Linked DNA regions of Homo sapiens. The protein of the gene in region 1 interacts with the protein of each later gene in a pairwise test. Each region holds a gene or a part of one and is shown in the gene's direction. Other genes may lie near its edges.

The links.
Region 2: the proteins of HACE1 (region 1) and PLXNA2 interact in a two-hybrid assay, tested with the Homo sapiens proteins (one large-scale study listed by IntAct).

What each region holds. Positions count from the first base shown.
Region 1 is NC_000006.12:104,769,389-104,773,214, reverse strand, and holds part of HACE1 (E3 ubiquitin-protein ligase HACE1), read left to right. Parts: intron 1-1,140; coding exon 1,141-1,290; intron 1,291-1,825; coding exon 1,826-2,022; intron 2,023-3,826. UniProt on the Homo sapiens protein: E3 ubiquitin-protein ligase involved in Golgi membrane fusion and regulation of small GTPases. Acts as a regulator of Golgi membrane dynamics during the cell cycle: recruited to Golgi membrane by Rab proteins and regulates postmitotic Golgi membrane fusion.
Region 2 is NC_000001.11:208,213,059-208,216,884, reverse strand, and holds part of PLXNA2 (plexin-A2 precursor), read left to right. Parts: coding exon 1-150; intron 151-166; exon of another isoform or gene 167-250; intron 251-3,826. UniProt on the Homo sapiens protein: Coreceptor for SEMA3A and SEMA6A. Necessary for signaling by SEMA6A and class 3 semaphorins and subsequent remodeling of the cytoskeleton. Plays a role in axon guidance, invasive growth and cell migration.

The sequences.
Region 1 (3,826 bases):
AATAGTAGTATATAGCATGAGCTCATTATGTGTTTGTTGAATGGATGAGTAAATTTGTAATATGAATTAGTGACCATCACAGAAAAATAGGAAAAATAGGAAAAGAAAGTTATTTAAAGTTGAGGTTTTGGCATTAGGTTTTAACTTTTAACTAGTAGTATTTTTTTTTTGAGACTTTTTTTTTACGGTGGTGAAATACACATATAAATTTACCATTTATATTATTGAAAGTGTACAATTCAGTGGCATTTAAGTACATTCACAGTGTTGTGCAACCATCGGCCACTATCTATTTTCAGAGCTTTTTCATCACCCCAAGCAGAAATTCTGTACCCGTTAAGCAATATCTCCCATATCCCCTTTCCTCAGCCTTAGGTAACTACTAATCTACTTTACCTATCTATAAATTTGCCTATTCTAGATATTTTATAAAAGTGGATTCATATTCCATTGCACTGGATTTTCATAGTAATTGGTAACTTATTGCCCTTGCCATTTTTACTTTCACCTCAGAGGTAATTGTTTAAACTTAATTGTTTGCCATTAGAAAGACTTGGTTACCTTGTGGACTGAGGTGATTTTCTAATCATTGTTAACAGGCATCAAGTTCATTGACTAGGCCTGTCACTTAAGAGCAGTTGTACATTTACAGTTTTTAGTTATTCTCATAGTGTTCTACTCCTGAAGCAGCAAAAACTAGCAAATACTTACTGCACTGGCACATACAGATGAATGGGATAATGTCTGTCCTAGCGAACAGCCTATTGCCATACTGCCTAGGAAACTGTGTATATGTGCGTGTGTGTGTGTGTATGTGTATGTGTATATGATCCTCTGCTGTATTATTTCCAGAGTGTCTCTGATGATCTTCCAACTAATTTCAGTCAAAAGTACTCTAAAATTTTCTCTCTGCCATAGATTACTGTGACAAATATGTATGAATAAATGATTATCATCTATACTTCCAATTCTACTTACCACTTGTTATATTTTCCACAAAGAACATTTCTCTGGAAGTTTATACATAATGTAACCTTAGCTTTGCTGAAGTTGTATGTGAATTAGTTTATCTGCATCGAAGTAATCTTTCTTCTGCATATAGATTCTTAATAATATATTATTTTGTATTTATTTCAATAGGAACAACTTTTCAGCCTAATAGCAACTCTTATGTAAATCCTGATCACTTGAACTATTTTCGGTTTGCTGGGCAGATCTTGGGATTAGCGTTGAACCACAGGCAGCTGGTCAATATTTACTTCACACGATCCTTCTACAAGCACATTCTTGGTATGGCTCTATTATTATTTCTGCAGACATTTATTTATATTGTTTTTTTTTCAGTTTGAGGAAAACTAGATAAGCAGTAGTATTTTGGATGAGATAATTTTTATTTTGATTGGAGCCCATCTGTATATGTAAGCCATTCGGGGTTTGAAGGAGAAAAAAATGACCTACCTTTTTTTTTTCCAAACACCTCTAGTTAAGTTAGCCTTTTTTTTTTTTTTTCAATTTTTGTGTGTGTATTTTTATGCTAAGAATACATTTCAGTGTGAGTATACTTAAGATAATTGGCATTTTTGAAGTTTATAATAACTTCCTGAATAGTTATTTCAAAGAAAGATTACATTGTAACAATGTGAAAGAAACACAGAATTAATTTAACAGACTTTCAAATTCAGGAATCCATTTAAAATATGCTGTGTGTAGGATTGTATTATATTTTGCAGTTTTTCAGAATATCTGTAGAGGGCAGTATTTTACCATTAAATAGATAAGGGAAGGCAAAACCAGACTATAACTGCTGTATGTTTGCATTTTTTAGGTATTCCTGTAAATTACCAAGATGTGGCATCCATTGATCCAGAATATGCGAAAAATTTGCAATGGATTTTAGATAATGATATAAGTGATCTGGGTCTAGAACTAACTTTTTCTGTTGAGACTGATGTGTTTGGAGCAATGGAAGAGGTGCCTTTGAAACCTGGGGGTGGGAGTATTCTTGTGACACAAAATAATAAAGTGAGTATTTCAGTTTTTACCTTAACCATTGTTTGTAACTTGGCCCTGATAGTTTGCTAGTTACTCTAAATTCTTCTGGCACTTGTAGAAAAACTTTTACTATTACAGTATCATAGCAGATAAAACGTTTAAGTTAATAAAACAATCAAATGTTAAATTTTGAATTAGAAAGGATTATTTTGATAATTGTGCTAGCTGTGCTGAGTTGGTTCCTAAAAAATCGAGAGCACTTCAGCTGATAGTATAAATTGGGCATATGCATTTTGAGAAATTTGATTAGAAATATAAGCTTAAATGAAGATATTTGCAAAAATTGCTCTTTCATGTTTTTAAAGTGTAATATTAAAGAATTCTAATAGAGAAAAGAAATGCCAGTGTTTAAGCTTTCCACATACTTTTGGGATCCAGTAAGTTTGTTCGACCTTTTGATATTTTTTTGACTGTATAACTTGATTATTTATTTATTTATTTATTGAGACGAAGTCTCACTCTGTCACCCAGGCTGGAGCGCAGTGGTATGATCTCGGCTCACTGCAACCTCTGCCTCCTGGGTTCGAGCAATTCTCCTGCCTTGGCCTCCTCAGTAGCTGGGATTACAGGGGTGCGCCACCATGCCCAGATAATTTTTGTATTTTTAGTAGAGACGGGGTTTCACCATGTTGGCCAGGATGGTCTCAAACTCCTGACCTCAGGTGATCTGTCTGCCTCGGCCTCCCAAAGTGCTGGGATTACAGGTATGAGCCACCACTCTCGGCCTTATTTTTATTTATTATTACCTCTCCTCTATATGTATTATTTAAAAATCTTTGCATATGTTTTAAATTTCACTGTTCAAAGTCATAATATGACTTTAAGATTTAATATGGCTTGGTGTTTTAATATGTTATATGAGGTATTTGGAGTTAGAAAATATCATATGAATTCTAGTTCTGTTGCTTACAAGTAGCAGCTTCTGGTTGAACAATACTAAACTGCCCCCCTCCCTTTTTGTTTAGCTGAATTATAATTCCAAGACATCTTCAGAATCAATTTAACTATAAGAAACAATGTTCACTGAGCCATTTTTTAAACTATAGATTTAGTAAAATGTGGATTATTTTAAAAAGGGTTATGTTTAACAATTCTTCGAACTCAGTTTTCTGTAGAATTGGAATAATAATACCTCCCATACAGAATTGTTATTAGCATTTTGTAAAATGAAAAGCACAGCACAAAAGTTAGTTGTATTGGGTAGTTTTCTATAAAAATAGGTTCTTAGTTTCAGATATATAAAGGGAATTGGAAACTTATTAGCAAGCGACATAATTTTACCTTTTGAAACTTAAGATACTATAGTGTACAAAAAAAAGAGATTGAATTCTTGGAAATAAAGTCAGGAGTTGAGTTCTTACATATTCATACTTAGAAATTTTAAATTCTACCCTCTCATTTTACATGAAATGACACTAATCCTAAAGAGTTAATGGCAAAACTGGGGCCAAAACCCAAGCCTCCTAATTTCAAGTCTAATGTTCTTCATACTATATGCAAAATTAATTGTGTCGAGGAAGAACTTACTTGATTTTTAATGTAAGTCATGTTAAGCTCTAGAAGATTATAATAGTTAAACACTTAATTTTTAAACCTATATGATTTGCCAGTGAGTGAAAATATTTTTAGAATCTTTTTTTAGATTGTTCACCTTGTAGCATGTTTATTATTTTATTTTACACTGGAGGCCTACCCTCAATTAAGGGTAATGAAGTCATAGAATCTTTATTAAGCAATGATTGCCTTTGATAAGAGAACCATAAACATGATTCTT
Region 2 (3,826 bases), on another chromosome or scaffold:
CACCACCCGCCCGATGACTCTGCCCTGTGTGCCTTCCCTATCCGGGCCATCAACTTGCAGATCAAGGAGCGCCTGCAGTCCTGCTACCAGGGCGAGGGCAACCTGGAGCTCAACTGGCTGCTGGGGAAGGACGTCCAGTGCACCAAGGCGGTAAGGAGGCACACACCTCGCTCTGCTCCTGCTCCATGACACAGGTTCCAACCTTCCTGTCCATGCCCTGGGGCACATCTGCTCCCACACCACCATGGACCTGAAATGAAAGAGGTTTTCAGACTCAGGTTATCAGGTGGTAACCAATAACGCAGGGTCTTACGTACACCAGATACTTGAGATATGTGTGTTGATTTGTTGTCATTTCAAATATATGTATTGAGTGCCTACATCACATCAGGTGCTATTGTAAATGCTGCAGGCTTCAGCTGTGAACCATACAACCCTACAAAGCTCACTGCCCTCATGGAGATTACACGCTAGTTGGGTGAGACAAATGAACACATAATACATGTTAGTTTGCCAAATGGTGATAATGGCTATAGAGAAAAATAAACAGGAAAGGGGGAGAGGCAGTAGCTGAGAGGACTGACTCATTGAGAAAGTGGTGTCTAAGCAAAAACTGAGGATGGGAAGAAAGGGAGCCACACAAGTGTCCAGAGAAAGCATTCCAGAGAGAGAAAGGGTGAGGAGAATGTGCAAAGAATTCAGGGCATGCCTGGAGTGTCTGAGGAACAGTAAGGAGGCAACTGCAGCCAGATCAGAGTATGTGAGAGAAAGAGCAGCAGGTGATGGGGTCCATCAGAAGTAATGGGGACCAGGTCATGTACACACAGAGCTGTAGGCCACTGTGGTTCCCAGTGAGGGGGTCAAGTGGAGATCAGAAATCTAAGTCAGAGGAGAGGGAAGGGAGTCTGGCTTGACCAACTGATGGAAAACTGGAGAAGAATCAGGAGTGTGGGCAAAGGCAAAAGAGGAGAGGATGAAAAGCTCAGAATCCAGACCTGAGGAAAGCAGAGACAAGAAAATCAGTGGCAAGCACTGCCCTGTCAGCGGCTCATGGTGCTGCCATCAAAGTATTCATGATCCACTCTTCTTCCATCATTCATCCAACCATCCAATCATCCATTCATTTATCCACCCATCTCTCCTTTCATCCATCCCCTTTCCTTCCCTCCTTTTATTCTCCTATCCATCTATCCCTCCATCCTCCTTAGCTCTCTCCCTCCATGCATCTCTCCATCCATCCATCCATCCATCATCCATCCATCCATCTATTCACCTATTTACCTAAACCTCCATTCATCTGTCCCTGATCCTTCCCTTCATTCTTTCCTCCATCCCTTCCTCCATCCCTTCATCCATCTCTTTATCCACTCATCCCTCTTTTTTCTCCCTTAATCTATGTCTCCATATCTTTATCTATCCATCATCCATTTGTCTACCTAGCCCTCCATCTATCCATTCATCCCTCTCTTTATTCATCCACCATCATCCATCTACCCATCCCTCTATTCATTTACAAGTAGTATTGAAGATCTTCTGAATGCCTGGCACTGTACTAGGCACTGGGGTTGCAAACATAAAAAGACATGATCGGCTGGGTGCGGTGGCTCACACCTGTACTCCCAGCACTTTGGCAGGCTAAGGTAGGCAGATTGCTTGAGCTCAGGAGTTCGAGACCAGCCTGGGCAACATGACAAAACTCCGTCTCTACAAAAATTCCAAAAATTAGCTGGGTGTGGTGATGCACACCTGTAGTACCAGCTACTCTGGAGGCCTGAGCATGGGAGGTGGAGGTTGCAGTGAGCCAAGATTGTGCTACTATACTCCAGCCTGGGTGACAGAGTGAGACCCTGTCTCAGAAAAAAAAAAGACATGATCACTAGTCTCACAGATCTTATAATCTAGTAGGGGGAAGAGAGAGAGAGAGAGGAAGAGAGAGAGAGCTAGAGACAGCTGGCAACATAATGTAGTGGCTCAGAGTTTGAGGTTCTGAGACAAAAGCCAGGCTTCAAATTCCATCTGTGTTTCTTCCTGCCTTCTTCAGAAGCACCTTAGCATCTCTACATTCTTATCTGTGAGATGGAAATAATAATGCCTAGCTCATGGGATGATCAGATGAGATAATACATGGAGAGATTAGCACCATGCCTGGAAATGTTAGGTTTATTATTACACAGGGAGTTAACAGGGAGTGTGAGAAGTGCAAAAGTAGGTTTCTTGTACACAGTGCTGAGGGCTCTGGATCTGCAACCTAGAAAAAAATATATGAGACCAAGGGGCCCATACGGCTACCTTCTGAGTACTCTAAATTGAAGGTGCCTGCCGTTGGGACCAAGCACCAGTACTTGAAGCAAGAAAACATCATTCCAAGGCTACGCTTCTATTCCTGTCATCATTTGCTTGGTGTGGTAGAAGAGTCGTGGTTAAGGCTTTGAAGTAAACCAGATGGGGATTAAAAATCAGTCCTACCACTTACTCCTTGTGTGACTTTGGGCAAGTTATGTACCTGGTCTGAGCTGTAAATTTTTCGTCTTTAAAATAGAGATAATATTGTCTTCTTTTCATGGTTATTATGAGGATCAAATGGAAAATTTATGTAAAGTGCTTAGCACAATACCTGGAACATAATAAGCATTCAATAAATGGGCCGCTATGATTATTAATATTAATCACAGTAGTAAAGAGCCAGCTATTTTCTTAGTTATCTTACTGTTGTAAAATGAGGAAGCTAGACTAGATAGTCTTTGGTTTTTTTTTTTTTAACGCCAAAATTTTATGGCCACTGGCCGTAACCAATGTGGAGAGGTGGAGAGGAAATGTAACCCTCCGTAAGGGTTAAATGCTTGCAGAGTCCAGCCTAGTTCCCATAACCCAGAGGGGGCCTTGTCAGGAGGAAACTGCTGATTCCTGCCTGCTTCTGAGCCAGAGGAAAGAGGAAGATGACACTCTTCTCTGCTCCAGAGCAGAGGGACAAGCCTGGGCTAGTTACAAAAGGATAGCAAAGGCACTGGGAGAGAGGTGACAGTGAGTGGGGCCAGGACCTTAGAGTGGAGAGCCCCTTGCCTCCACCCCTTCAGCACCACACCCTTCTGGTGCAAGGGCTGCAAGAGGAATGGCCCCTTAAAGACCCTGATACTCCAAAGAACTAAGACCCAGGGACCCAGAAATATTTTGGTGGCCTTAGAGGGGAATAAGGATAAATGAAAGAAGCTGTGGTCCCAGAGCTTGATTTTAACATGACTCTGGAATAACATGGAAATCTCAGATCAAAAATTTGAGCTCTGATCCCAGAAAAGAGAGGAAGAAGGGGGCTATCACTCATTGAATAGCAGCTAGTCCTAAAGGCTAAGCTTGGCAATTTAAGTGTTATCTCACTTGCTCCTCACAATGACCCCATAAAGCAAGAGTTATCTTCCCCATTTTACAGATTAAAAAACAAAGGCTCACAAAGACTAAGTAAGTTGCTCAGATCTCCACAGCTATAAGTGATAAAGCGGGGATTTGAATTTAGTTCGGCTGTATTACTTCTTAGTCCAGTCTCTCTCTATTGAGCCCTTCTGTTTCCAAGGAAAGCCATACACCAAGCTCTCACCATTTGAGCAAAAGTAAAGGTGCATCAGGTGTTTGGGAATATCTAACAATATATTGAAAAACAACTTGAGGAGGAAAGAAATTCCAGCCAATCCTAAGGGCTTAGGCTGAGAATAAATCTTTTTTTTTTTTAATAGTTCTGGAGATACTAGAATCAATAAGACAGTAGCAAAATCTAGGATTACCAGGTTTTTGCTTCTGTCATCATTTCTCAAAAGCTGACTTGGGCTACGCCTGT